Homo sapiens: one gene and its partners. The protein of the gene in region 1 interacts with the protein of each later gene in a biochemical or structural test. Each region holds a gene or a part of one and is shown in the gene's direction. Other genes may lie near its edges.

Evidence for each region.
Region 2: the proteins of SP1 (region 1) and HIF1A form a complex in vitro, tested with the Homo sapiens proteins (2 studies listed by BioGRID).
Region 3: the proteins of SP1 (region 1) and NFKB1 form a complex in vitro, tested with the Homo sapiens proteins (one study listed by BioGRID).
Region 4: the proteins of SP1 (region 1) and EP300 form a complex in vitro, tested with the Homo sapiens proteins (4 studies listed by BioGRID, with this or other methods).
Region 5: the proteins of SP1 (region 1) and PPIG form a complex in vitro, tested with the Homo sapiens proteins (one large-scale study listed by BioGRID).
Region 6: of the proteins of SP1 (region 1) and MAPK3, one has a biochemical effect on the other in vitro, tested with the Homo sapiens proteins (2 studies listed by BioGRID).
Region 7: the proteins of SP1 (region 1) and CCNA2 form a complex in vitro, tested with the Homo sapiens proteins (2 studies listed by BioGRID).

Annotation. Positions count from the first base shown.
Region 1 is NC_000012.12:53,413,824-53,417,674, forward strand, and holds the end of SP1 (transcription factor Sp1), read left to right. Parts: 3' UTR 1-2,623; downstream 2,624-3,851. UniProt on the Homo sapiens protein: Transcription factor that can activate or repress transcription in response to physiological and pathological stimuli.
Region 2 is NC_000014.9:61,740,211-61,744,675, forward strand, and holds part of HIF1A (hypoxia-inducible factor 1-alpha), read left to right. Parts: intron 1-294; coding exon 295-417; intron 418-544; coding exon 545-978; intron 979-4,465.
Region 3 is NC_000004.12:102,598,195-102,602,659, forward strand, and holds part of NFKB1 (nuclear factor NF-kappa-B p105 subunit), read left to right. Parts: exon of another isoform or gene 1-1,541; intron 1,542-2,700; coding exon 2,701-2,815; intron 2,816-3,450; exon of another isoform or gene 3,451-3,837; intron 3,838-4,320; exon of another isoform or gene 4,321-4,465.
Region 4 is NC_000022.11:41,150,627-41,155,091, forward strand, and holds part of EP300 (histone acetyltransferase p300), read left to right. Parts: intron 1-1,206; coding exon 1,207-1,386; intron 1,387-1,579; coding exon 1,580-1,724; intron 1,725-4,368; coding exon 4,369-4,465. UniProt on the Homo sapiens protein: Functions as a histone acetyltransferase and regulates transcription via chromatin remodeling. Acetylates all four core histones in nucleosomes. Histone acetylation gives an epigenetic tag for transcriptional activation.
Region 5 is NC_000002.12:169,635,785-169,639,527, forward strand, and holds part of PPIG (peptidyl-prolyl cis-trans isomerase G), read left to right. Parts: intron 1-307; coding exon 308-444; intron 445-628; coding exon 629-1,739; 3' UTR 1,740-3,743. UniProt on the Homo sapiens protein: PPIase that catalyzes the cis-trans isomerization of proline imidic peptide bonds in oligopeptides and may therefore assist protein folding. May be implicated in the folding, transport, and assembly of proteins.
Region 6 is NC_000016.10:30,116,306-30,120,578, reverse strand, and holds part of MAPK3 (mitogen-activated protein kinase 3), read left to right. Parts: intron 1-2,040; coding exon 2,041-2,230; intron 2,231-2,415; coding exon 2,416-2,532; intron 2,533-2,794; coding exon 2,795-2,909; intron 2,910-3,293; coding exon 3,294-3,425; intron 3,426-3,575; coding exon 3,576-3,685; coding exon of another isoform or gene 3,686-3,742; intron 3,743-3,788; coding exon 3,789-3,911; 3' UTR 3,912-3,943; intron 3,944-4,273.
Region 7 is NC_000004.12:121,817,721-121,821,155, reverse strand, and holds part of CCNA2 (cyclin-A2), read left to right. Parts: intron 1-64; coding exon 65-177; intron 178-390; coding exon 391-614; intron 615-1,576; coding exon 1,577-1,784; intron 1,785-2,242; coding exon 2,243-2,356; intron 2,357-2,978; coding exon 2,979-3,112; intron 3,113-3,435. UniProt on the Homo sapiens protein: Cyclin which controls both the G1/S and the G2/M transition phases of the cell cycle. Functions through the formation of specific serine/threonine protein kinase holoenzyme complexes with the cyclin-dependent protein kinases CDK1 or CDK2.

The DNA of each region.
Region 1 (3,851 bases):
TTAGAAGGTAATTTGATGGTATTTCTTTCTCGAATGAAAAGCTGCTGGTTTACCCTCAACCCTATTCATTAGCATTACCATGAGTGAATTTATATCTAATTATTTCCACTTGCCCTGTTCTCTTCACACCAAGGAAGCTCCAGATCCAGTATCTTGTTTGGCCTCAAAACAGAAGCAGCTTCTTTTGTCTCCCAGCAGTAGTGAGCCACTCAGTCTCTTCCACAGGAAGTTTGGAGCCTACATTCCTTGAGTCAGGAGCTTATTACAGAAAAACCCCGTTTCCCTGAACTTTTGGCTAACAGAAATTAATTTAACTGACATGCATATTGATTCTGAAATTTTTTTCCTAAGTTTTTTTCATTTTTTTGAATGAGTTTTTTAAATTTTTTAGATGACCAAAACTTGCAGGGCAGGGGATGCCCAGAAGAGTGGTGAGATAGTAAAACACTTATTCCCTCATCCTTTCAGGTTTTCAGGTTGCCCATTTATATTCATTTACATGTCATTTGACTGTCTCACTTTTTACCCAGAACAGTAACAACCCACACCGTCTTCCTTCAGGGATTTCCAACTGGCACTCTGTGGGTGCTACACAGAATGCAATTTAATGGATATTTCTCAGCCTGGTTCAGAATAAATTGATCCTTTGATCCCAGAAAGTATATACTGAAGTGTGGGATAAAGATTATGATTAGGGGAGGGTTGGAGACAAAAGCTGTAAATTACTATGGCTGATTTATTTCTACTATATACATATATATTTTTTGCTTTTGTATATCCTATATAGGAAACTAAGCATTGTATTTTTTTTAACAAATCTAAAAAAGCACTATGAACTACAGGTGTTTGACTTTCAAAATATATTTTGTATTGTTAATATCTTCACATTGTGTGAATACTGGAAGCTGCAGATCTTTGCTAGGACGCAATAAATTTATATACTTTTTGAGGGGTTCTTCTGGGGTGCTAATCAGGCCCCTGTTATGCTTAGGGGGAGCCCTGGTGCTACTTGCTTGAAGTTTTCAGTGTAAGTACCCTGATGCCTTTTGGACCTTGGGATCAGATCAAGAGTTTTGGAGATCAGGTACCAAGGAAATAAGGACAGTCTAGCTGCCTCAAGTGAGGGGCCCTTTGCATAGCTCTCCTTCCCCCTCACTGAAGCTGGGTAGCCTATTGGGGTTGAGAGGGAAAATGTGAAATCTCAGAATTTATCTCCCTTAGAAGAGAGCCAGTAACTTATGTACAAGGATGAAAGAAAGGTCGCAGCAGTAGCTTTGGGGAAAGGGAGGAAGATATGGCACTTCTCCAACCCCGGAAAACATTGCTTTTGAAAACTGCTGATAAAATATGAGCCGGTTATTACTTCTGTTTGGGAGACTGTGCTCTCTGTGGTGCCTCTCTTGGCTCTACTCCACAGATACCAGACCTCTTCTAAGAGGATGAGCAGACCAGCTTTGAGGTTGACCTGTTTCTCTTTGTCTGCCTTCCCAAAACACCAGCCCCCAGGAAGACATTAAGCAGCCTTAAGCTTAAATTCCTACTCCCTCTTCCAAATTTGGCTCACTTGCCTTAGATCCAAGGCAGGGAAAGGAAAAGAAGGGGGGTCTCTGGCTTTATTACTCCCCTAAGTCTTTACTCTGACTTCCCCAAACCCAGAAAGATTTTCTCCACAGTGTTCATTTGAAAGAGGAGTATTTTGTCCCATTTTCCCCTTCCTCATTATCAAACAGCCCCAGTCTTCCTTGTCTCTGCTAAGAAAGTAGAGGCATGATGATCTGCCTCTCAACTGCCCTAAGTCCTAGCTAAGTATCAGGGGAAAAAAAAAAAAAAAAAGCCTAACAAATGGGATTAGACTAGGGCTGCAAGTAGTGAGGATTTTGTTGATACCTCTGCTGGGATGTGTGCTTTCCCATATCTTGCCTTCAGGAATTACACTGTGCCTTTTCCCCAGGGATATGGGCTCTGTCTACCCAGTGCTCCAGTTTCCCGGTAACTGCTCTTGAACATTGTGGACAAGGGCAGGTCTTCATATTTTTGATCATCCCTTTCTCCCAGTGAAATCCCATAGCCCTTACCTAGAGTCTAGGGCACAAAGACTTCGGGGAAGATACACTGAGATTGACCTGAGGAGACATCTACACACACCAGTGGCAGCTGCCCCAGGGCCTGCTTCCCCTTCCTAAGTCTGTCATCCTCTGGAAGGGATGGGTGGTGCTCCAATCTCTGGTGCCTAAAAACCCAAGTTTATTTCTCTCTTAACACTGGCAATAACCAGTCCACACCACTGTTGCCTTTTAAAACCTCTTAATAATCTCATGCTGTGTTTGTTTTGATTCCAATCCAATTATCACCAGGGCTGTGTGGGTAAATGCTTTTAAATGCTCTCTCATCTTGTTCTTCCCCCTCACCCCCCACTCTTAGGTATGTATGATGCTAATCTTGTCCCTAAGTAAGTTTCTTCCTGCTCCTTTTGTATCTTCCTTTCTTGTCTTTCCTCCTACCTTTTGTCTCTTGGTGTTTTGGGACTTTTTTTTTTTTTTTTTTGGCCTTTTGTACAAAGATTAGTTTCAATGTAGTCTGTAGCCTCCTTTGTAAACCAATTAAAAAGTTTTTTAATAAAAAACCATGTCTCTGGTGTATTGAAGAGGGTTGGGAATGGTGAGAGTGTACGTTTGTAACTTCATACTCTGAACCTAACAAAGGTTTCCAGCTACACTGTGTTGTGCTCCATACATGTTAATTAGTGCAATTGCCCTATATTTAACTCCCGGGTAAATGGTTTCATGACCAGATCAATGTGCCACAACTACACGGAAATGTGGAGGACCAAGACAAACAGGCAACACTAACTTTATTTTTTTTCTCATATGCTTTTTTATTTTGGAATAATTTTAGATTTACAGAAAAGTTGTAAAGCTAGAACAGAGTTTCCATATAATCCTTACCCGTTTCCCTCATTGTTAACATATTACCATGGTACATTGTCAAAATTAAGAAACTGACATCGTGGCCAGGTGTGGTGGCTCACGCTTGTAATCCCAGCACTTTGGGAGGCTGAGGTGGGTGGATCACGAGGTCAGGAGATCGAGACCATCCTGGCTAACACGGTGAAACTGTCTACTAAAAATACAAAAAATTAGATGGGCGTGGTGGCGGGCATCTGTAGTCCCAGCTACTTGGGAGCTGAGGCTGGAGAATGGCGTGAACCCGGGAGGCGGAGCTTGCAGTAAGCCGAGATTTCACCACTGCACTCTAGCCTGGGCGACAGAGCAAGACTCCGTCTCAAAAAAAAAAAAGGTTTGTCTCTTCTCCCTCATTTGTTTAGTCAATTTATATTAGTATGTATTAATGTGTATTTATTTTATACATGGATTATAATCCATTACTATTTTGTTGCTCAGATTTTCCCAGCTACAGTCATTGTTATCTTTTGTCAGCCTATAAGCATGTTCTGGCTGGGCGCGGTGTCTCACCCCTGTAATCCCAGCACTTTGGGAGGCTTAGCTGGGTGGATCACTTGAGGTCAGGAGTTTGAGACCAGGCTGGCCAACATGGTGAAACACTGTCTCTACTAAAAATACAAAAACGTAGCCGGGCGTGGGGGCAGGTACCTGTAATCCCAGCTACTTGGGAGGCTGAGGGAAGAGAACTGCTTGAACCGGGAGGCGGAGGTTGCAGTGAGCCAAGATCACGCCATTACACATTGCCTGGGCAACGAAGCGAGACTCTCAAAAAAAAAAAAAACATGTTCAAGTATTCCCCCTTCCCCCATTTTAAAAAACCTCAGCTTCCTCTTCAAGCTACTGATTAGTTTTTTCCATTTCCAAAGTTAGTGAAAGTAGTTTACACTC
Region 2 (4,465 bases), on another chromosome or scaffold:
CGTTTGCCACCATGCCTAGCTAATTTTTGTATTTTTAGTAGAGACGAGGTTTCACCATGTTGGCCAGGATGGTCTCGATCTCTTGACCTCATTATCCCTCCACCTTGGCTTCCCAAAGTGCTGGGATTACAGGCGTGAGCCACTGAGCCCGGCCTAGTTAAATAAAATTTGATAAACACGATGGACTTGGTTGTGTGTTTTCTGGTTTTTCTGAGATCTAGTTTGAAAATTCTGACAACTAGCAAAGTATATGGAAGCTTCTTCAGGAAATAGTAAACATATTTCTTTTTACAGCCTAATAGTCCCAGTGAATATTGTTTTTATGTGGATAGTGATATGGTCAATGAATTCAAGTTGGAATTGGTAGAAAAACTTTTTGCTGAAGACACAGAAGCAAAGAACCCATTTTCTACTCAGGTATATGAACTTATTTGTTTTATATTAAATTTCATTAATTTTTAGTCTGAAGTGACTTTGAGTTTCACTTGTTTTTTATTTATAAGGTGTGGCCATTGTAAAAACTCATGTATTTGCTGTTTTAAAGGACACAGATTTAGACTTGGAGATGTTAGCTCCCTATATCCCAATGGATGATGACTTCCAGTTACGTTCCTTCGATCAGTTGTCACCATTAGAAAGCAGTTCCGCAAGCCCTGAAAGCGCAAGTCCTCAAAGCACAGTTACAGTATTCCAGCAGACTCAAATACAAGAACCTACTGCTAATGCCACCACTACCACTGCCACCACTGATGAATTAAAAACAGTGACAAAAGACCGTATGGAAGACATTAAAATATTGATTGCATCTCCATCTCCTACCCACATACATAAAGAAACTACTAGTGCCACATCATCACCATATAGAGATACTCAAAGTCGGACAGCCTCACCAAACAGAGCAGGAAAAGGAGTCATAGAACAGACAGAAAAATCTCATCCAAGAAGCCCTAACGTGTTATCTGTCGCTTTGAGTCAAAGGTATTTATATGTAACATTCAAGTTATAGTTCTTTTATTATTTTTGAGATAAATGTATGTGATAGTACATGATTTTTAAACTTATAGCAAACTTTCTGATATATATGCCCTAACGCAAATTCTTGAGAACTCAAAAAACTTTCTAAATTAACCTCATATATTTTTTCTTTTTCTTTCTTTTTTTTTTTTTTGAGACAGAGTCTCGCTTTGTCGCCCAGGCTGGAGTGCAATGGCATGGCACCATCTCAGCTCACGGCAACCTCTGCCTCCTGGGTGCAAGAGATTCTCCTGCCTCAGCCTCCCGAGTAGCTGGGATTACAGGCATGCACCACCACGCCCGGCTGATTTTTTTGGTATTTTTCATAGAGACAGGGTTTCTCCACGTTGGTCAGGCTGGTCTCAAACTCCCGACTTCAGGTGATCCGCCTGCCTCAGCCTCCGAAAGAGCTGGGATTACAGGTGTGAGCCACCATGCCCGCTCCTATTTTTTCTAAAATAATTATAAATTCTAAAATTACCTATCTAAATGGAGGAGGGTCTTCTGACACCTTTAAAATAAAATCCAGCTCAGTACTGTAAATGTGTTTACAGAACTTGTTTAAAGTTCTTACAGTTGTTTAAATCAGACTAGTTAACTACCCTCACTACTTAGATGCTTCCATTTCTTAGAGCTCTTTTTTAAGCTTATCTGAAGAAAAGCCCTTCCAATTTAAGGGTTATTTCCAATTGCACATTCCAAATTGAGCCTTCCATCTTCAGCATTCAATATAGATATTTACAGGCCCCTCTTTTAAAATTTTATTATAGTTAACTTGTATTAAAGTTGCTTTTATTTTTCATTACGTATTTGTAGAACATTAGCTATATATATATTGCAGGCTACATAGGTTTTCAAACTGTACAACAGGAATCTAAGCATGAATTGTTACTTCTATGGAGCTAGTTCAAACAAACATATGGACATGACCCAATTTTTAAGTTATACTTTCTGTATATAATTTGTAAGGGGATTTCACATATTTTAAGTTTGAGGCTATAGCTAGAAGAAATTAAGTTTTATCTAATAAGTGTGTGGAAAAGGGAAATGATTCCTTCTCTACTATGTCTAGACTAAGCCAGATATCAATAGCAATAGGAAAGAACCACTGTCGTAGCCAGAACACATAGCTTTTTTCCCTGCCTAACATTCCCACCTTGACCTAGAGTGCTGGGAGAGGTCTTTTCCCTAAGCTTGGAAAAGACATTGGGGCTTTAGATGAACTCAGAAGTACTTTACATTACTTTATTTACTGTGTCACTTACTCACTTTTGACTCTGAGCTCCACGAGGGCAATCACAGTGTCTTGGGCATTTTAGTGATACTAATACTTAGCTCATGACCTAATGTGTAGTACTTCCTCAATAAATGGTTGTTGAGGCAGGGCGCAGTGGCTCATCACTGTAATCTCAGCACTTTGGGAGGCTGAAGCGGGTGGATCACCTGAGGCCAAGAGTTTCAGACCAGCCTGGCCAACATGGTGAAACCCGGTCTACTAAAAATGCAAAAATTAGCTGGGCGTGGTGGCACGTGCCTGTAATCCCAGCTACTTTGGGAGGTTGAGGCAGGAGAATTGCTTGAACCCTGGAGGTGGAGGCTGCAGTGAGCCGAGATCGTGCCATTGCACTCCAGCCTGGGCGAGAAGAGTGAAACTCGGTTTCAAAAAAAAAAAAAAAAAAAAAAGTTGTTGGACTGACAGATGCATGAATACAGTAGTAAAAATGACAATCACTTATAAGTTACAGTTTACTATCAGCTACAGAGGATGGGATATCCAGTTTTCTGAACAACTGTTCTCTTGTACTTGTCAAAGCCAAAGTGTAACAACACATCAAGTCACTTTAGCAATTTATTTTTGAGACGGAGTTTTGCTCTTGTTGCCCAGGCTGGAGTGCAATGGCGTGATCTCGGATCTTGGCTCACCGCAACTGCCGCCTCGCTGGTTCAAGCAAATCTCGTGCCTCAGCCTCCCGAGTAGCTGGGATTACAGGCATGCACCACCACACCCAGCTAATTTTGTATTTTTAGTAGAGACAGTGTTTCTCCAGGTTGATCAGGCTGGTCTCAAACTCCCGACCTCAGGTGATCCACCTGCCTCAGCCTCCCAAAGTGCTGGGATGACAGTTGTGAGCCACTGTGCCCAGCTAGCAACTGTTTTTAAACATTAGTTCCAATGTAGTGTACACTGAAAACTTTTATGAAAGGAATTTCAAAAATTAAGATAAACCATTAAAAACGTAATTACTAAGTACTACTACTACTACAATGATATTTACATAATAGACTGAGTTACATTTCATAAAGACAATATATCTGTATAAGAATTTTTAAACTTCCCTGTCTATATAATAGAAGTTTTAGAGAAATTTTTTAAAAACCAAAGAAAACTGCAAAATAAGATCACTTACCTATTTGGCATTCTCAACTGTCTGGAACAGCAAGGAGCCATTATGATTATGCATTTGGTTTGTGGGGTGTCTTGAAAAGTCAAAATAATGTAACAAAGCTGATGTACTTTACTCATTAGAACAATTCTTCACAATTTAATATTAATTTTAGATATACATAGTTCATGTTTGATAACCAGATCAATACTGAGTGAAAAATAGCATAGTGGGAAGAGCAGGGGAGGGGAGGTAGGGATCTGGAGACCTAGAGTGTACTTCCATATTGCAACTAGTGAGCAGTAGGACTTTGAGAAAGTTACCCAATAGGCCTCAGGGTTCTAATTTATAAAATGGGTATGATATGCCTGCCTTATCTGTCTTGGGAACTTAAGTAAGGTTAAAATGAACTAATGAACTTGAAATGTTTTATAAACTGAAAATGCTATACGAATGTGAGATTGATCTTGTATTTCAATAGTCCCAACAATATCACTGCATTGTTATATTAGGTGGAATAAAAGGACAATATTTAACTGTTTTGACTCTACAATAGTGTCAATTTAGTTGTGTTCAGCTCTATTTTATAAAATAGGGATACGCATACTGTAGAAAATTTCCTGTTAAATTAAGCTTTGACGGCCAGGTGCTCACGCCTGTAATCCCAGCACTTTGGGAGGCCAAGGTGGGCAGATCACTTGCGCTCAGGAGTTTGAGACCAGCCTGAGCAACATAGTGAAATCCTGTCTCTACAAAAATATGTATATATAAATTAGTCATAATCCCAGCTACTTGAGAGGCTGAGGTGGGAGGATCACTTGATTCCAGAGGCAGGGCTTGGTTGCAGTAAGCAGAGATCACGTCTCTGCACTCCAGCCTGGCTGACAGAGTAAGACCGTGTTTCACCAAAAAAAAAAAAAAAAAATTAAGCTTTTACTTTTAAGATGATAAACTTTAGTGATCAGGAAAGTTATCTTATGTATATTATATTCCTTAATATTGGAGAACTAAAGAATTATGTATTTTCTTTAAAAGCGCTCACTGGATATTTTTTTTAAAAACGCTAT
Region 3 (4,465 bases), on another chromosome or scaffold:
CATATGTGGGAGTGGAACATTCCAAACACCATGCCTTCCATTCTTGCTATTACTGAGATTGTATTTGCAAAGCCACCTGGCTTCTTTCTAAAACAGTTCTCTTAGTCCTTTCATTGAGACTTCTAAAATGATCTCAAAAGCCTATAAAAATAACAAGAGACAGCAGCCTTCACATTCAAGTCAAGTGCCTTATCTAAAACCTTCCTAAAATAGCATCAACATAGAGAAATCCTTTTCTGTGGAAGAGCTCTTGAGTGCTGTGTTTTAGACTTCAGTTTAAAAATTAAACCAAGCACTTTAGGAAAGTAACAACCTCAGGGTTTCAAGCAGAGACACCTTTGTTCTCATTCCTTGCAACGTAACCAAGGATGTGGTATAACCACTGGCCTTGTTATACAGTATGAGAGGAACCAGTACAACCTTCTTGGTATAAAGCCATGAACAGCAGAATTCTTTTTCAGGGTTAAATAATCCAGTTAGCATTCAGTAGCATACAACCACAAGAAAAAGCAGTTAACCAAGACAGTACAGCAGTGTTTCAAGTGGCATTTCCAGGGACCTGTTAAATTGATAAGTCTAAGAAGATGAGCACATACAGGTTAGAAAGGAAGTGCTGATATCTGAAGGGAGGATTGTTGGAAGGGATACAAGGCGAGGCACATGCAAGTTCCCTCCTAAGACCCAAGCACACTCACACAAGCCGGCTCTCAGAGAGGCCACAGATTTGGGACTTGGAGAGACCAGAGGATCCTCATAAGAGCATAGGTATAGGGCAGCTTTTGGCCATCACAGCCCAAGTCTCTTGTTTTAATTCAGCTCGTCATATTTGGCTAATAGTTTAAATCCTGTGGCCATTAGTCATCATAGAAAATATAATAAAGAAAAATATATAAAACTTCTGCTATTGGGGAAATTCCCATAAGGGTGTGAGGATTTGAGGGGGAGGGGGAATGTACTTCTGCTATGAAATGCTGAGCGGCACATGGAAATTTTCGAGCAGTTTTAGAAGTATGACCTTTTTCTTGGTGTATGTGCATCATGTCTATGTCAGAGTTTAGGCCCTTTTCAGAAGTCTTCTTCCAGTATCACATTTCAAGAAGCAATAGTGAAACCCTGAGATCATCCGTTTTAAAATATTTCTCAAGTAGCAAAATCACAATTTAGTTTTTTAGGCTCTTCTGTGCCGGAGTTAATCCCAAGTACGATATACTTGCTATTGCTAAGGAAGAGGCTTGAGTAAAGTGGCACCTGATAGCTTATTTTAGAGAAGATCCAGCCTGTACCTCGTGTCCCAGATGTAGTGCTGCTGCGAGATGCTTTAGTGTGCTCTGCACCTCAATCTGTCCATGCTCTGGAGTGGTCATCTTCTTAGACATTCATCTGAATGTCTTTAGAACAGTGCACATGTATCCCCTATGCAGGATTGCTTAAGGGATTAAGAGATGGCTTTGGAGTAAGACAGGCCTGGGCTTGAATCCCAGCTTCACCACGTATTGGCCTTGACTGAGTTATATGACGCCTGCAAGTCTCAGTTTCATTAGCTGAAAAGTGAAGATAATATTACCTAACTCATAGGATTATTGTTATAGTAAAAAGACAATATATATCAAATGCTTAGCATAGTCTGGTAAATCAAAGCTCCCAACAAATAGTAGCCACTGGTAAAATGATTGTTATTGTTATTGTTTTGAATTTTAATAGTATGTTTTTTAATAATTAAAAGAATTACGCTCCTGTGAGTGACTTTGACACCACCAGTATGTTCAGCCTCATTAGCGTAAGCTCTTAAGTTCCTTCTATCATTCTTATTTTTGTGCCTCTACTGCATGCTAGGGTTGTAAGGCTGACTCAGACAGAACCTGCCCCAGAGATGACAGGACAGAGAACGAGAAAAATGTGTAGAAAACTGCAGTTGCATAACCAAGCAGTAAATTTGAGAGGGACAACTTGCTCCACCTAGGAGGTTAGGAAAGTATTCTCTGAGGATGTCAGGTTTGAACTGGAATATAAAGGATGGAGTAGGCATTGTTCAGGCAGAAGAAAGGAGCAAAAACATTCCAGGCAGAGGGAATATTTGCTGGAATGTTTGCAGGAGTGGTGGGAAATACAATCACTTTGTTTCTTCACAAGTTTACTGCAAGAATTTTCTTCCAGTAGTTAAAAGCTTCACTCCATTCTCCACTCTTGGGATCTGGAAAGATCTTTAAAAAACCACCACACTGTATTTTGGAGGAGGGCAGCAGGGCTAAGTGAGGTAACTAAGTTTTTCTGAACAATTCCTAGTGCCAGGCATTCATTTTACATAGAATCTGTGTGTCAGGAAAAGTCAGGGGGAAAGGTAGAGAAGAAAACCGCCCAAAGCCATGGTATAGAGGCAGGATTGGGATTTAAGCTTAGGTCTTTCTGGGCTGGAAGCCTCAGTGTGTTTATACATCAAGGGGTCAAGACCTGAATGCTCCCAGAGGCCAGGAAGGTACCACAAATAACGTAGCAGCCTTGGGTAGGCAGTTGGGAGGGACCAGTCCTCTGGAGACAGCATCCCACCTCAGATTCAATGCATTTTATAGATTCAAAACATTTTAGGGCCAAATAAAACTAGGTATGAGAGCAGATTCCATTCTTGAGTCTAATCACATCTTGGGAATCTTTTCTTTTTCATTAACATTTTAGTTAATTATTGCCACTGTGTTTTCATTCCAGTGTCTTACACTTAGCAATCATCCACCTTCATTCTCAACTTGTGAGGGATCTACTAGAAGTCACATCTGGTTTGATTTCTGATGACATTATCAACATGAGAAATGATCTGTACCAGGTAAGCAGAAATCTCAAGAAAACAACTGAAGAAAAATCTGTAGTTTACTTTTTCTTCTGTTATGTTTGGGTGCATGTTATTTTTAGTAATGTTAACAGTAGCAAAAACAAAAACAAACCTTTGTAGGTAATATCTAAAATCCCATTAGTTGAGAATGTTACTTTATGATGTAGGATCCTTTGATCTGTGGGTATAACAGCCATCAAGCCACAATGAAATTCAGCATCCCGCTGGGGGAAGGCAAACTTTAAACTTTAGAAATCAAACAGTTTTTTCATTTAAGAGGGAGAAACTAAAGTAAAAATGTCACATCTGTCAAGAAAAATAAAGTTAAAAAAAGTTTGAAAAGCCAGTAATTTATAATAATTTTGAAGTCTACTGAAACATACCTTGACAACATCCAGATTAAATGTATATCAAATGAAGCATTCTGAAATCACCACACAGAAAGGTTAAAAGTTTGCTTGAGGAGGAAAAGGTGTCTTTCAAAAGCAGAAAGACAGCTCCAAGTGAGGAAAAGTGGGAACACCAGAGTTTTGCCCAAATCAGGTTTTCTTAGGAATTAATTAGGTGGGCTGAAAATACAAGTTGAGGAACTGTTTTTTCCAGAGGTCTTCCAACACTGCAAAGGGAGAGTTAGCTGGAGACACAGCGAGGCCCTTTGATGGGCATATGCAGAATTCAGGGAGAGGCAAGGAGCCTGGGAGCCACTTCGGCAGAAGCAGAGCTTGGACGTTGGTGATGGGAGCCCAGTGACCCCAGCCAGCCTTTCTGGCTGAGCGACTGCACTGGCATGAAACCAAGATGGGGTTCGGCTCCTGAGGTTTCCTCCTTCCTGCCCCTGATTGCTTTTCCCACCTCACTGTCTTTCCCCTACTCCCACCAGTCTGCTGTATGGGGCTCCTGCCCTTGCCCACTTCTTACCTTTCCATTTGTCTCCTTCCCTTCATCGACCCGAAGCATCTTCCTCATCCTCCTTGGAGAGATGGTTTGCTGGTTCACGTGTATCTCTCACTCCAAAACTATGGCCAAAATCCTGTGTAATTATTTACTTAGTAAAGATATTTGTTCCTGCTCTCTCAGTTTTTATAGCAGTGATGTGAATCATTTCTATTTCCTCACTTTAAAGGAAAATGCTTTTATTATTTTAAAGAAAATTAATTAAAACTTCATTTTCTTTAAAGGAAATTAAAATATCTATTTTCTTATTTTTATTTCCATTCTTTAAAATGTGCTTTAGGCTGGGTGCGGTGGCTCACACCTATAATCCCAGCACTTTGGGAGGCCGAGGCAGGCGGATCATGAGATCAGGAGATCGAGATCATCCTGGCTAACATGGTGAAACCCCGTCTCTACTAGAAATACAAAAAAAAAAAAAAAATTAGCCAGGCATGGTGGCAGGCGCCTGTAGTCCCAGCTACTCGGGAGGCTGAGGCAGGAGAATGGTGTGAACCTGGAGGCTGAGCTTGCAATGAGGCGAGATCGCGCCACTGCACTCCAGCCTGGGTGACAGAGTGACGCTCTGTCTCAAAAAAAAAAAAAAAAGTGTGCTTTAAAGTGCATTTAAAGCAAAACTACTAAAACGTTTACATGTGGCTCTTAATAGTTTTTACCTGTGACTAGGTAAAAATTAATAGGTTTCCTGATAGG
Region 4 (4,465 bases), on another chromosome or scaffold:
ACTTTTCATCCTAGCACTTTGGGAGGCTGTGGCAGGCAGATCACTTGAGGTCAGGAGTTCAAGACCAGCCTGGCCAACATGGTGAAACCCTGTCTCTACAAAAAAATAACAAAAATTAGCCAGACATGGTAGCGGGTGCCTGTAATCCCAGCTACTCGGGAGACTGAGGCAGGAGAATGGCTTGAACCTGGGAGGTGGAGGTTGCAGTGATCCGAGATTGCGCCACTGCACTCTAGCCTAGGCGACAGAGTGAAACTCCGTCTAAAAAAAAAAAAAAAAATTGCAGATTTATGAGTCCTTGTGGCCCAAACCAAAGTTTAAAAATAAGATGAGAGAATTATAGACCCAGAACAACCTGTAGCTTCCTTGTGAGAGGTTGGTTATGTATATAATAAAAATCCAAATTCTCATCTAATAGTTGAATCCTTATTAATAGAACTTTTTTTAAGGGTTTAGAAGCTTCTACTTTGATACCGATATTAATATATATCGGTATCCAATAGTTCTCAGCCATGTTGATGAACTGAGAAGTTCCATGAGTCACAGCCGTTTTATAAAGTACTGTACTTGACGGATGGCTGGTTCATCGTGGCCTCTGATAGACAAGGAAGGACAGAATGAGAGAGGAACCAGTGGATCTGCTTGATTTTATTCTTTATAAAATCAAGGATACTTCCAGAAAATACTGACTTCTCATTAAGAGATTTCTTATGACAAGCCTTAGGATAAAGATAGGGAATGCCAGTTTATCTCATTAGAATCTAGCGATTCAAAACAGCCACTCTCTGGGACATCATTATATTTATTGTCTCCTTTTCTGTACCTTTGAAACTTTCTCTGGTGAGAAGGTAAAAACAAGCCAGTCTTTCTTATTTTCTTTCACTCATTTCTGTATAAATGTGAGCTCCTCTGAAGCAGACATCTTTGAAATCCCCACACACTGCCAGATAATGATAGTTATCAATGAAATAGTTGCTGGTTCTTTGATGTACAATCAGCCAACCAGTATTTACAAGTCTTAATTCTCCTGTTCTTAAGCATAATTAAGGGAGGTGAAATGGGCAGAGCAAATGAAAGCACCATGAATAAATATAAGCCAAGAAATAGGTGGCTAATTCTGCTATCCTGTTGCTTACCTTACATTCTGATTGTATCGTTGGCAGACTCTGCGTGTGTCTCACCTACTTCCCTTTTTTTTCTGCCCAGCTTTCCCAGCCAGCTGTAAGCATTGAAGGACAGGTATCAAATCCTCCATCTACTAGTAGCACAGAAGTGAATTCTCAGGCCATTGCTGAGAAGCAGCCTTCCCAGGAAGTGAAGATGGAGGCCAAAATGGAAGTGGATCAACCAGAACCAGCAGATACTCAGCCGGAGGATATTTCAGAGGTGAGAGTAGGGCAATTACTGTTTGATTTGGTTAGGACCTCAGTATAGGAACCCAAGTTTTAAAAAATATTGCAGAAAAATATTTTGATAATTAGATCTCATGGCATAGATTTTGCATGAGAAAGGGTGTTCAGATTACTGATTCCCAACTAGATATCTTTGGAATACTAAAAATTCTTACGTTTTCTTTTAGTCTAAAGTGGAAGACTGTAAAATGGAATCTACCGAAACAGAAGAGAGAAGCACTGAGTTAAAAACTGAAATAAAAGAGGAGGAAGACCAGCCAAGTACTTCAGCTACCCAGTCATCTCCGGCTCCAGGACAGTCAAAGAAAAAGAGTGAGTCTCTGAAGCCATTCGTTCTGGAGGTAGCTGAAGAAACCAAAGACCCAGGGCAGAATTGCGGTCATGCCTCTTGGGCCTCAGAAGTTGCCATTATTGTGATTTCATTAACCTGGAAGCCCTGGGCCTGGTCTCTTCATTGTTACTAATAATTTTTCTTTCTTTTTTTTTTTTTTAATATTCACTTGCAGCAACCAATGAGTTAAGTCATTCCCCTCATTTCTTCAGGGTTCCCTGTGTTAGTACACCCTAAAAATTGTCTCATTTTTCAGGAGAGAGAAATGTTTGTAAATAGCCTTGACTAAAATGCAGGAAAGAATAGCAATAGTAATAGCATTTGTCATTCACCTGCTGTGTGCTAAGTATCCACATTGTCTCATTTAATAATTTCTTTCTTTCTTTTTCTTTTCTTTTTTGTTTGGAATCGGATTCTCACTTTTGTTGTTCAGGCTGGAGTGCAGTGGCGGGATCTGAGCTCACTGCAACCTCCACCTCCCAGGTTCAAGCGATTCTCCTGCCTCAGCCTCCCGAGTATCTGGGACTGCATGCGCATGCCACCATGCCCGTCTAATTTTTGTATTTTTAGTAGAGACAGGATTTCACCGTGTTGGCCAGGATGGTCTCGATCTCTTGACCTGGTGATCCACCCGCTTCGAGCTCCCAAAGTGCTGGGATTACAGGCATGAGCTACCACACCCGGCCTCATTTAATAATTTCACAACAGCTCTGAGGTTATTGGCCTGAAGCTTAGCAAAGTTAAGTAACTTTCCACAGGTTACTCAGCTGACCCTACTGCCTGGGCCAGGAAGCAGACCCAGGCAGTCTGAGGCAGAGTGCTCAAATCCAGCCATTCCAACAAGTGTTAATTGACTATTTTAGGACTAGAACTTTTGTGGCTCTAGTGATCTGCAAAAGGCACCAGGTAGGACATACCTGAGGAGTGAGTCTGCTGGCTCTTACAGATGATATATATTGAAAAGTGTTCCATTAATACAATGTGTTGTAAAATGTTGGGATTAAAAAATTATTTTCATTTTAAAAATAAGACTTGTATATATTGAGGTGTTTTAATATGGGCTGTAACAAACCCAGTCTTACTATTGGCAATCTCTCTTTAAAATGTGTGTTCCCTCATGCCTGTAATCCCACCGCTTTGGGAGGCCGAGCGGGCAGATCACTTGAGGTCAGGAGTTCAAGACCAGCCTGGCCAATATGGTGAAACTCTGTCTCTACTAAAAGTACAAAAGTTAGCCGGGTGTGGTGGCTCTCACCCGTAGTCCCATCTACTTGGGAGGCTGAGGCAGAAGAATCACTTGAACCCGGGAGATGGAAGGAGGTTGCAGTGAGCCAAGATGGCGCCACTGCACTCCAGCCTGAGTGACAGAGAGTAATTGTCTCAAACAAATAAATAAAATAAAATGTCTAATTTCACAAGTTTATTCAAATAGTCCTTATTTTTAGCACAGCTAAATATGAGTGACAAGCATCTTCGTAGTCTGGTTTCCCCCCACTCCATGGCAACCCCCCAGAGGTGAAAATTATCTGAAGTAACAAATATACTCTACCGATGATGAAATTTTTTTTGCCAATTAAGAAAAAATAAGGCCCTTGCTGAAATTGAAAGCTTTTTAAATCACTGGCTTCTCAAAGAACTGTTTGATTCCATTTGGGACACACCAACAAATTTTTCCGGACTTTTTGGGAAATATCATTGAGAACACATTTGAACTTAATTTGATCAACTAAGTCTATTATTTTAGCAATACCATTTTTGTTCTCTCTTCTTTTAAACTTAAACCTAACATTTGTCATTAAAATAGTACATGTCTCTTTTTCTTTGGCTCTAAAATACCAAGCATTTGAACGAAGGAGTCTTCTCTTCTGTGCCCCTGACTCCTTGTAGTATAAGACAATACCTGATCTAGTCTAGTTTCTGACTTGTTAAATACTGATGTCATGAAGAAAGACTTTTCTGTTCTTGCTTGACTGCATCTCCCTCTTAACACGAGTATCTTGTGCACTCTTTTTTTTTTTTTTTTTTTTTTTGAGATGGGGCCTCATTCTGTTGCCTAGGCTGGAGTGCAGTGGCGCCATCTCGGCTCACTGCAACATCTGCCTCCCGAGTTCAAGCAGTTCTCTTGCCTCAAGCCTCCTGAGTAGCTGAGACTAGCATGCCACCATGTCCGACTAATTTTTTATATTTTTAGTAGAGACGAGGTTTCACCATGTTGGCCAGGCTGAAACTTCTGACCTCAAAGTGATCTGCCCACCTCAGCCTCCACCGTGCCTGGTCCCATGGACTCTTATTTGGCAAAGTCTCTTCATAAATTTTTAGAAGCCTTTGGATTCTGCTTCTAATTGACCGAGTCTGTCTTCACTGACTTTGTGACTGAAAAGTTAAGCTGAGGGTGAAGAGTGTTTTAAGGTGATAAGACACAATGTTTTTTAGGAGCTGTCTGAAACAAAGCGGGGCTTAGAATCTAGAATCAGTGATTGAGCCTGTAGTGATATTTCCATGGGGACAGAGTGGTTAATTTTGTTATTGATTCTTGAGATGCTTTTAGAGCTTCAGGCTGAATGATTTTTTAAAGTTCTTCTGCTTAATTGGTAACTAATTTCAAATGCACTTTTTTTTTTTAAGTTTTCAAACCAGAAGAACTACGACAGGCACTGATGCCAACTTTGGAGGCACTTTACCGTCAGGATCCAGAATCCCTTCCCTTTCGTCAACCTGTGGA
Region 5 (3,743 bases), on another chromosome or scaffold:
AAAGTTTTTGTGATTAATGTTTCTTGGAATTTGCAACATGACAACTTAAGTTTCTCTGCCTCATTGATTTCCTATATGAAAATTGGGAAATTTTAGTAATTTTCAGGGTATAGAAATATCAGACGTTTTATTTTAACCTGGAAACATATACTTTTAAGCTACTGTTTCAATGCTTTTTATATTTTTTTTATTTTGTACCCCTTACTACCTCCTGACCCTCACCCCAGTACTTCCCTCCCTCCCAGCACCCATGCGAGTCCCTCTATACTTCTATACATTAATTTTTCCCTATTTTAATTTTCTTTAGCGTTATCGAACTCCTTCCAGATCCAGATCAAGGGATCGTTTCAGACGTAGTGAGACTCCTCCACATTGGAGGCAAGAGATGCAGAGAGCTCAAAGAATGAGGGTATCAAGTGGTGAAAGATGGATCAAGGGGGATAAGTAAGATTTAACTATTATTATTTCAAATGTAATGATAAGTGTTTGCTTTTACTATTATACATAAAGTTATTGTCATTTTAGTTATTGCTGAATACCTTAAGAAAAGTAGAATATCATTTTAGCTAATAATATCTACAGTTCTTTTCCTAATAACATTTCCCCAATTCTTTTTCTTATTTTTTAGGAGTGAGTTGAATGAAATAAAAGAAAATCAGAGAAGTCCAGTTAGAGTAAAAGAGAGAAAAATAACAGATCACAGGAATGTATCTGAGAGTCCAAACAGAAAAAATGAAAAGGAGAAGAAAGTTAAAGACCATAAATCTAACAGCAAAGAGAGAGACATCAGAAGAAATTCAGAAAAAGATGACAAGTATAAAAACAAAGTGAAGAAAAGGGCCAAATCTAAAAGTAGGAGTAAGAGCAAAGAGAAATCAAAGAGTAAAGAAAGAGATTCAAAACATAATAGAAATGAAGAAAAGAGGATGAGGTCAAGGAGTAAAGGAAGGGATCATGAAAATGTTAAAGAAAAAGAAAAGCAGTCTGATTCTAAAGGAAAAGATCAGGAAAGGAGTAGAAGTAAAGAGAAGTCTAAACAGTTAGAATCAAAGAGTAATGAGCATGATCACAGTAAAAGTAAGGAAAAGGATAGACGCGCACAATCCAGGAGTAGAGAATGTGATATAACTAAAGGTAAACACAGTTATAATAGCAGAACAAGAGAACGAAGCAGAAGTAGGGACAGAAGCAGAAGAGTGCGATCAAGAACCCATGACAGAGATCGCAGCAGAAGCAAGGAGTACCATAGATACAGAGAACAGGAATACAGGAGAAGAGGACGGTCACGAAGCCGAGAGAGAAGAACACCACCAGGAAGATCAAGAAGTAAAGATAGGAGGAGAAGGAGGAGAGACTCACGGAGCTCAGAGAGAGAAGAAAGTCAAAGCAGAAACAAAGACAAATACAGAAACCAAGAGAGTAAGAGCTCACACAGAAAAGAAAATTCTGAGAGTGAGAAAAGAATGTACTCTAAAAGTCGTGATCATAATAGCTCAAATAACAGCAGGGAAAAAAAGGCTGATAGAGATCAAAGTCCCTTCTCAAAAATAAAACAAAGCAGTCAGGACAATGAATTAAAGTCCTCCATGTTGAAAAATAAGGAGGATGAGAAGATCAGATCCTCAGTGGAAAAAGAAAACCAAAAATCAAAAGGTCAAGAAAATGACCATGTACATGAAAAAAATAAAAAATTTGATCATGAATCAAGCCCTGGAACAGATGAAGACAAAAGCGGATGAGTGAGTTATATAAACTTACTTCCATTCTGTTTCGGATTTTAAGTTTGAGAGACTTGCTAATGAATCTCCTTTATGTTGTTTTCCTTTTCATTGTTTTTGGATTGTTTTATGTTTGTCCTTTTTTTTCTTAATGTGGATTTCATTGAGTTGATTTTTTGATAATCTGCAATCTGGATAATTTGTACTGCTAAAGTTTTAATAAACTCGACATGAGAAAAACACTTTGGTGTAGTACTGTGTGCTGTGTTTAACTATTTTATGTATGCATTACTGTGTTGCAACAATTAGCCAATAGCATCCTAATTTGTTTAGTCAGCCATTTGGAATGGTTGCAATGCATTGTTGCAAAAGCTTGTGTTTCTCATGATTAAAGTAACTTTAGAAGCCACTAGAAGACATCTTGTATAGATTTTCTGATTGCGTTATAAATAGAGGTTTGCAGCGGTTTCTTTTAATTACACAGAAGCAGGGTCCTAATAACCTGAGATCTTAAATCATCACTTTTGATTTTATAGTAATTTGTGCTTTAAAATAGATGTATTTATATTGCACTTCATACTCTATTCTTTATAGTTCGAGCCATAGCTTGTTTCCTATTAATGCTTTTCCTGTCTAGTTGTGTTTTACTTAACTGCCTATAAAAATCGTAAGAGTAATTTTTTTCAGTTGATGTACTGATTGAGCTTGAGTTGCTGTTATACAGCATTTGACAGGAACTATACCTTGGAAAATCAGATTGTGATTCTCAGTTCTGTGTTGCTTTTGGTTTGAAGAGTTTTGGGAACGTTTTAATTATTAATTACCCTTCTCTAAACTTTAAAAAAAAAAAAGCTTTTCTCATTAAAACATACCATTTGTGCAGGTCCTTAAGCTATACAGATTCTAAAAATTGTTAGTATTGAGACATTAACTTCTAAGATTTCTCTTTTTTGGCCTCCAACCTATATAGAATTGAGTGTTAACTCTGCATGGATTTTGTTTGTTTTAATTGAACTGACTTCTCTAACTCTCATAGCTGTGAGTTCCAAATGGCAAGAAAATGCATCTTTTCTATATATGTATCACGATAGGCTATAGCATGTTTATGACTCTGGTTTCTTTCTCTTCAGGTGGTTTTATACCATTACTGTTAATGTTATTTTAACTTGGCATGTATAACATTGCCATATAGAGTAGAGTAGAAAGTTGCAAATTTTGATAGTTTACAGAGTTAAACACTAAACATATCCAAAGTCCATTTAGAGTTTTGGGTGTTGTATTTTGCCATTTTTGTGATGTGTGGCCTTTTATTCTGTAATCTCTTCTAAATAAAACATTGAACATCCAGCAAACATAAAACCTGCCTCATTTGAAAAGGAATTTCAAAATTCCAATTAATAGGATTCTCTAGAGAGTTTTGTACTTTAATATTTGTCAGTGTAGTGTCAACTCTGTTACCAAGGTAGCTTCTTGGTAAATCCAGTAGCTACTCAATGCTATTTGTACTGAATAAAGCAATTATTAACATGATACTTCCCACTATTGATTAATGCAATATTGATATATTTGGCGTTGTGGTAGCTGTTGCAGAATGAATAGTGTAATGACCATAAGATTGCTTGGAAAATTGTAATACAGATATCCACAATGAATTCTTTCCAAAATTTTTTTTTCCGATGATAAAAGTAGTAGATGTTTATTATAAAATCCAAGGTGATTGATTCCTTAGAGACTGACCACAAACCCACATTAGGGATAATTGAGTCTGAGTGCCCAAGCTATATAACGTTATGTAGTTTAAGCAAGTTATTGTTTGTCTTAATTTCAGTTAACTGCATTTTAAAATTGTTGTTATAAACTATTTGAGCTTTAAGAAAGGTGCTATTTAAGAAAGGATTTCTAATAACAGTTAAATATTTTTTTTAAGTCCATGCTAAGTAAAAATTCTTACATGTTGTCTGATCCCAGAGCTTTATCTACTAAAAATTATACATAAGGATTTCCAAATCTTAGAGTTTCAAAAAG
Region 6 (4,273 bases), on another chromosome or scaffold:
ACTCAGAGCCACACCCTAATCACCTGTGGACTTGCACCTTGCCCAGGGAGGGACAGCCTAGCCTTGGCTGTCCTCCCCCAATACTGCTTTCCTAGTTTGCTGTCCACTTCCTGTCTGGCTCTCCTTAGCAACTTATGACACCTGTCACTTCTTCCCTGCCCCACCCACCCACTCTCAGTCCCAGCCCTCCACCCAAGAGTGGGGATTTGTACTGAGGTGTCTGCAACCCCCACCACAAACTGTGGACAGGAAATCTCCGTGCTCACCCCCAGCTCGCTGTGTGATCTGAAGCAAGTCACTGCGTCTCGCTGGGCCTCCCCAGCCCTAAAACAGCAGGGCTGGTCCACATATTCTCTGAAGACCCTTTCAAGGCTGATTCTTGTTTTCTTTGTTTTTTGTTTGTTTGTTTTTAGATGGAGTCTCCCTCTGTTGCCCAGGCTAGAGTGCAGTGGCTCAATCTCAGCTCACGGCAACCTCCACCTCCCAGGTTCAAGCTATTCTCCTGCCTCAGCCTTCCAAGTAGCTGGGACTACAGGCGCCTGCCACCACGCCCGGCTAATTTTTGTATTTTCAGTAGATGCGGGGTTTCGCCCTGTTCACCAGGCTGGCGTCAAACTCCTGACCTCAGGTCATCAACCCACCTTGGCCTCCTGAAGAGCTGGGATTACAGGCATGAGCCACCATGCCTGGTCTCAAGGCAGATTCTAAAAGACAGCCCTGACTTATTTTTCTAGAGACAAGCCAAACAGCATTTGTGGATTTATTTATTTATTTACGCATAAGCTTTTTTGTATCTTCAAATAGAAAAAGACATTTTACTCCTCCATCTTCTGAGGTATGGCCAAGCACTCTCCTTTGAGTGGGAGTGTGCTGTTGGGAGTGTCTCCTCATTTTTCTTGCACAAACCATTCCCATAAGGCAGGCATTTATTTTTAAGCAAACATTTATTGCATGCCAGATGGTGTTCATACATTATCTCATTTAACTCCCTCAACAGCCATGTGACTCAGGCATTCATATTAGTAATAATAGTTCATGTTTGCCTAGCACTCACAACTTGCCAAGCACTGGGCTGACAGCTTTACATGCGCCATCTCATCTAGTCTTCACAACCACCCTCAAAAGAACCATTATTTCATGGCTTGCACCTGTAATTTCCAGCACTTTGGGAGGCCGAGGTGGAAGGAACACTTGAACCCATGAGTTCAAGACCTGCCTGGGCAACAGAGCAAGAGCCCATCTCCACAAAAAGAAAACAAACAAACAAACAAAAAAACATTATTTCCCCTACATACCAGATGAGAAAGTTGAGGCACAGACAGGTTGAGATCCTAAAGCCAGTGAGTAGTAGAGAGGAGATTTCAGACATCCATGGGTTAACTCCAGAGTTGCTGCTCTTTTTGTAGGTTTTTTTTTTTTTTTAATTTATTTATTTTTGAGACAGAGTCTCACTCTGTCATCCGGGCTGCAGTGCAGTGACACAATCTTGGCTCACTGCAACATCTGCCTCCTGGGTTCAAGTGATTCTCGTGCTGCAGCCTCCTGAGTAGCTGGGATTACAGGCACATGCCGCCGTGCCCAGTTAATTTTGCTATTTTTAGTAGAGACAGGGTTTTGCCATGTTGCCCAGGCTGGTGGTCTCAAACTCCTGGCCTCAAGCAGTCCTCCCGCCTCAGCCTCCCAAAGTGCTGGGATTACAGGTGTGAGCCACCACTCCTGGCCCAAGTTGCTGCTCTTAACTGTGAAGTTCTCCTGCCTCCCACAGTTTATTATTATCCCCGTTTCCCCGGTAGGGAAACTGAGGCCTCAGAAATGAAGCCCCTTGCTCAGGATCAGCAACTGTGATGCAACAGAGGCTCAGAGCCCTGCCGCTGGGTAATGGCAGCAGCTTCCCCAGCTGGTGGTGCAGGTTGGCAGATCTATTGAGTCCCAGGGGCCCTGGCTGGAGGAGGTGTGCAGCCTCGCCTTCAGAGCCTGTTTTCCTTAACCAAGTGCCTCCCACTGCCCCCTGCCTGGGGGGGTCTGCGGAACCATCCTCAGCTACATTGTGCAGGACCTGATGGAGACTGACCTGTACAAGTTGCTGAAAAGCCAGCAGCTGAGCAATGACCATATCTGCTACTTCCTCTACCAGATCCTGCGGGGCCTCAAGTACATCCACTCCGCCAACGTGCTCCACCGAGATCTAAAGCCCTCCAACCTGCTCATCAACACCACCTGCGACCTTAAGGTCAGAGGGTTGGGCACCTGTCCCCTCCTCCCCCAGGGTCTGGGGCTTCCAGTGACCAGTAGAAGAAGCCTTGGGCAGGAGAACATTGCAAGCAAAGGGAACAGTGGAGGCAAAGACAAGGGGGCGTGACTGCTTAGGCTGCAGAGGCCTTGAGCGCCGAGCTTAGCAGCTAGGTCTGATTCCAGATTTGTGATTTCGGCCTGGCCCGGATTGCCGATCCTGAGCATGACCACACCGGCTTCCTGACGGAGTATGTGGCTACGCGCTGGTACCGGGCCCCAGAGATCATGCTGAACTCCAAGGTAGGAGGGGCTGCCCACTCCTGAAAGGAACGGACCAGTTCCCAGGAAGCCCTGGAGCTACCTCTGAGCCAGACACTGACCCCCATGACACAGGAATTCTACCCTCTGGGCCTTGGGCTCTGCAAGGAAGCTGAGCATTGAGCCCTCCAGGCCTCTGCCTTCTGCCTGGTGTTGGATCTAACTTGGAGGTGGTGGCCTGGCGCAGACAACAGGACCCTGTTGAGGCTGGCCCAGGAGCTCACCACTTCCTCCTCTCCCCCAGGGCTATACCAAGTCCATCGACATCTGGTCTGTGGGCTGCATTCTGGCTGAGATGCTCTCTAACCGGCCCATCTTCCCTGGCAAGCACTACCTGGATCAGCTCAACCACATTCTGGGTGAGGGAGGCCCGGCTGGCTGAGTTGGGGATGATTAGCTTTTCCGAGGTGAGATTTCTCGAGAGTCCAAGTCAGGGATACCACCACGTGTGGGGTGCCTCCAGCATCTCATGGTATCTCAATGAGGTATAGATATTATCCCCATTGGATAGATGGGAAAAGCAAGGCTAAGTCCCACACCTGAGGAGGCACCAGACCTAGGATTTGAGCCTCGGTCTGCCTGAACCCAGCCCCCTTGCTCTGCACCACCATGCTAATGACTAGGAGGTGACTGAGGGATTGGCATGGGTTGCTGGGCTGGGGGGTCTTGTTCTTGCCTTGTTGCCTATTCTGTTCCCAGAAAGAAAGAGGTGATCATTTACCAAGTCACCTCCTTATCCACAGGCATCCTGGGCTCCCCATCCCAGGAGGACCTGAATTGTATCATCAACATGAAGGCCCGAAACTACCTACAGTCTCTGCCCTCCAAGACCAAGGTGGCTTGGGCCAAGCTTTTCCCCAAGTCAGACTCCAAAGGTTCGAGAGACATGAGGGTGGGTGTGGGATAAACCTTGGGTGTCGTGGAGGGTGTGTGAGCCCAGCAGCCGCTGGAGGAGACAGGCAAAGCAATGCTTCTCGGAGCTCCTCCAGTCTTCCCTGTGACCCCTGACTCCTGCCCTTCCATAGCCCTTGACCTGCTGGACCGGATGTTAACCTTTAACCCCAATAAACGGATCACAGTGGAGGAAGCGCTGGCTCACCCCTACCTGGAGCAGTACTATGACCCGACGGATGAGGTGGGCCAGTCCCCAGCAGCAGTGGGGCTGGGGGCAGGGGAGCAGGGGGGCACGTAGGCATCCCCCATGCCAGGCCTGAGCCTTGCTGTCTCTACCACCCCAGCCAGTGGCCGAGGAGCCCTTCACCTTCGCCATGGAGCTGGATGACCTACCTAAGGAGCGGCTGAAGGAGCTCATCTTCCAGGAGACAGCACGCTTCCAGCCCGGAGTGCTGGAGGCCCCCTAGCCCAGACAGACATCTCTGCACCCTGGGGCCTGGTGAGTGTCTCCATGGCCCACACATGGACACCCTGATACTAAATATCTATATCTGTATATCTATATCTATATCTATCTGTACATGCCTCCATACAGCAGCAAGCTTACCCCACACCCATGGTCAATGTGTCTGGTGACAACAGAAGTGCCCAGGGGGCTGGGTGTGGTGGCTCATGCCTGGAATCCCAGCACTTTGGGAGACTGAGACTGAGAGGAGTGGATCACCTGAGGGTCAGGAGTTTGAGACCAGCCTGGCCTGCATGGTGAAATCCCATCTATACTAAAAATACAAAAATTAGCCGGGCACAGTGGGTCACTCTGGTAATCCCA
Region 7 (3,435 bases), on another chromosome or scaffold:
ATTTTTAGCTATTAAACTAAATAGGCAAACAATTAATTTAATCATATCTTTTGAATTGTCCCAGAGTCACCACATACTATGGACATGTCAATTATATTAGAAGATGAAAAGCCAGTGAGTGTTAATGAAGTACCAGACTACCATGAGGATATTCACACATACCTTAGGGAAATGGAGGTAAAGGTTCTCTGAATCCAGTTTGTATAATGTATTTGTTAAATGTGGCTAAATGAAATTGAGAGGATAATGTTTAAATTTTTAAACTAATGAATTATTCTAATGCTACAGTTAAGTTTATAGCATGTAGCCTCTCGTAATTAATGGTAAAATAATCTAATTGCAGTTTTTACACTAGAATAATTTTAACACTATAAATAATTTTCTCAATAGGTTAAATGTAAACCTAAAGTGGGTTACATGAAGAAACAGCCAGACATCACTAACAGTATGAGAGCTATCCTCGTGGACTGGTTAGTTGAAGTAGGAGAAGAATATAAACTACAGAATGAGACCCTGCATTTGGCTGTGAACTACATTGATAGGTTCCTGTCTTCCATGTCAGTGCTGAGAGGAAAACTTCAGCTTGTGGGCACTGCTGCTATGCTGTTAGCCTCGTAAGTCTACCTTGGTTTGTTTAAAAGTGATCACGACCTTTTGTCTAGGGAAGAAATTGATTTTTTTAATGGTGACCTTTTAACATACACCAGGCAGAGTCAGTGACTACTTTAGGGATGGCAATGTGCTGGGGCTTAGGGCAGTGGAGGAGGATGAAACTGTTCTAATCTAGAACACTAATTTTCCCCCAACTGGATTCCTTGAACATGATATAGTACACTAGGTTACAAATTTTAAAACATTTTCCTTCCAATATTACTTTCTGGCATATAAGCAGTGTCTCTTTTATTAAGAAGTAAAGGCTGGGTGCGGTGGCTCGCGCCTGTAATCCCAGCACTTTGGGAGGCCGAGGTGGGCGGATCACTTGAGGTCAGGAGTTTGAGACCAGCCTGGCCATCATGGCGAAACCCTGTCTCTACTAAAAATACAAAAATTAGCTGGGCATGGTGATGCATGCCTGTAATCTCAGCTACTAGGGAGGCTGAGGCAAGAGAATCGCTTGAACCCAGGAGGTGGAAGTTGCAGCGAGCTAAGATTGCACCACTGCACTCTGGCCTGGGCGACAGAGCAAGACTCTTGTCTCAAAAAAAAAAAAAAAAAAGAAAGAAAAACTAAATTTAAAAATGAAAACATGAAACATGTTTTCCTAAGACTTGTATTTCCTAAATTTTCAGCTACTTGGTGAACTCTGGCATTGTTCCCATCTCGAGAAGTCTCATGCCTTTCATTTACTTCCTTTGACTGAACTGGGGAAAATATCTCAAAAGTCCTTTATTGATTTGGGCCTTTTAATTAGCAATTAGCTATCCAGTCTCTACTAGAAATGATGATCAAGTGTCTGGAAATGCAGTTGGTGTGGATTTTGGATTCATTCCATATTCTGCTAATGGGATTTCAGAACTGGGATAAGGAAGCTTGCTTCTCTTTTAGGACTGATTACTTAAAACTTTTTTCATTGTAGAAAGTTTGAAGAAATATACCCCCCAGAAGTAGCAGAGTTTGTGTACATTACAGATGATACCTACACCAAGAAACAAGTTCTGAGAATGGAGCATCTAGTTTTGAAAGTCCTTACTTTTGACTTAGCTGCTCCAACAGTAAATCAGTTTCTTACCCAATACTTTCTGCATCAGCAGCCTGCAAACTGCAAAGTTGAAAGTTTAGCAATGGTGAGTTAACTTTCATTTTGTTGAATGGTGATTCTTTGGTAATAATTAGGGGTAAGCCCTAATTCCTTTGTAAAGGAACCTAGTTCCTTTGTACAGCAGTGGTGAAGAGATTTAGTATTCAGAGGGAGATTAATGCTGCAGTATGGAAGAAAGCCTACTGCTGGCAAAAGATAATCTATATCAGGAAAGCACTAGAAGCAGAGGTCTAAGGATGACATCTTGGGGATGGGTAGTCAGAAGAGTTGTTTTTTAAAAGTTAATAAAGGAGGGAAAATACAGGATGAGGATGGAACAAAACACTAAAATGATTGATATGTTTAAAGATGAGGCTGTGAGATATTTTTTCTAGAGTTGCTACAGAGCCGTTATCAAAGGCAGGAAAAAATTAGGTTAGAAGGCAGAGGTTTGACATTTGAATTCTAAACGCTCTTGTGATCATAAAGTATTTTTTATTCCAGTTTTTGGGAGAATTAAGTTTGATAGATGCTGACCCATACCTCAAGTATTTGCCATCAGTTATTGCTGGAGCTGCCTTTCATTTAGCACTCTACACAGTCACGGGACAAAGCTGGGTATGTATTACGGTCTTCACACACCTATCTTGTGACTGAAATGCCTGTGCCAGATTAAATAATAATTGTCCTACAAAACTGAGGGTTGCCTAGATGTTCTTACTTGGAAAAACTTCAAATATATATAGTTGACCTTTGAAAAACACAGGTTTGAACTGTGTGAGTCCACTTACACATGGATTTTTTTCCAATCAAATGTGGACTGAAACTACAGTATTCAGGGGATTCACAACCCATATATATGGAAGGGTGACTGCAGGACTTGAATATGTACAGATTTGGGTATATTTGGGAAGGGTCCTGGAACCAATCCCTCATGTACACTGAGGGATGATTATATACTGTTTAAGGCATGTTACCTGTTGAACAGTGTTTGTTAGGTAGTAAGCTTAGTTGTAACTTGGATTGAAAGGTGAGCTTTTTTAAAAGCATCTGACCTGTTGCTGGCAGGGAAAGTAGTAGAAAATGGATCGAGGGATGGAATAATGGCCTGAGAAAACTAGTAGTTGGAAAAGTTAAAGATTAGTACTGGAATTTAACATAAGCTTAATGCCAACTATTTACTGTGTTTGGTGTGTTACTAAAAGCAAAACTCAGGGGTTCTCTATTCCCTTCTCTGTAGCCTGAATCATTAATACGAAAGACTGGATATACCCTGGAAAGTCTTAAGCCTTGTCTCATGGACCTTCACCAGACCTACCTCAAAGCACCACAGCATGCACAACAGTCAATAAGAGAAAAGTACAAAAATTCAAAGTAAGAATTAACTTGGATATTGAAGCTTACTTTTCTAGATTATGGTTCAGAGATCTTTGACATTTTAACCTTATTCATGAATCTGCCATAGCCTCCTTGAGAAGCTGTTCTCTAAATTGGTTATGTGTTTGAAGAAGGTTGTAGTTCATGCTTTCTGCCCTGGGTCTGGGGGAGAAGAGAGAAGGAAGGGGGCATGCATGTGTGTTTCAGGGACCAGACAGTGTTTCTAAAACCATCAAGTCGGTCAGACAGAAATAGCATTTTTTAGTTCCCAATACATGAGTACAAACATTATTCCATGATCTCCTTTACCCAGTGAGTGT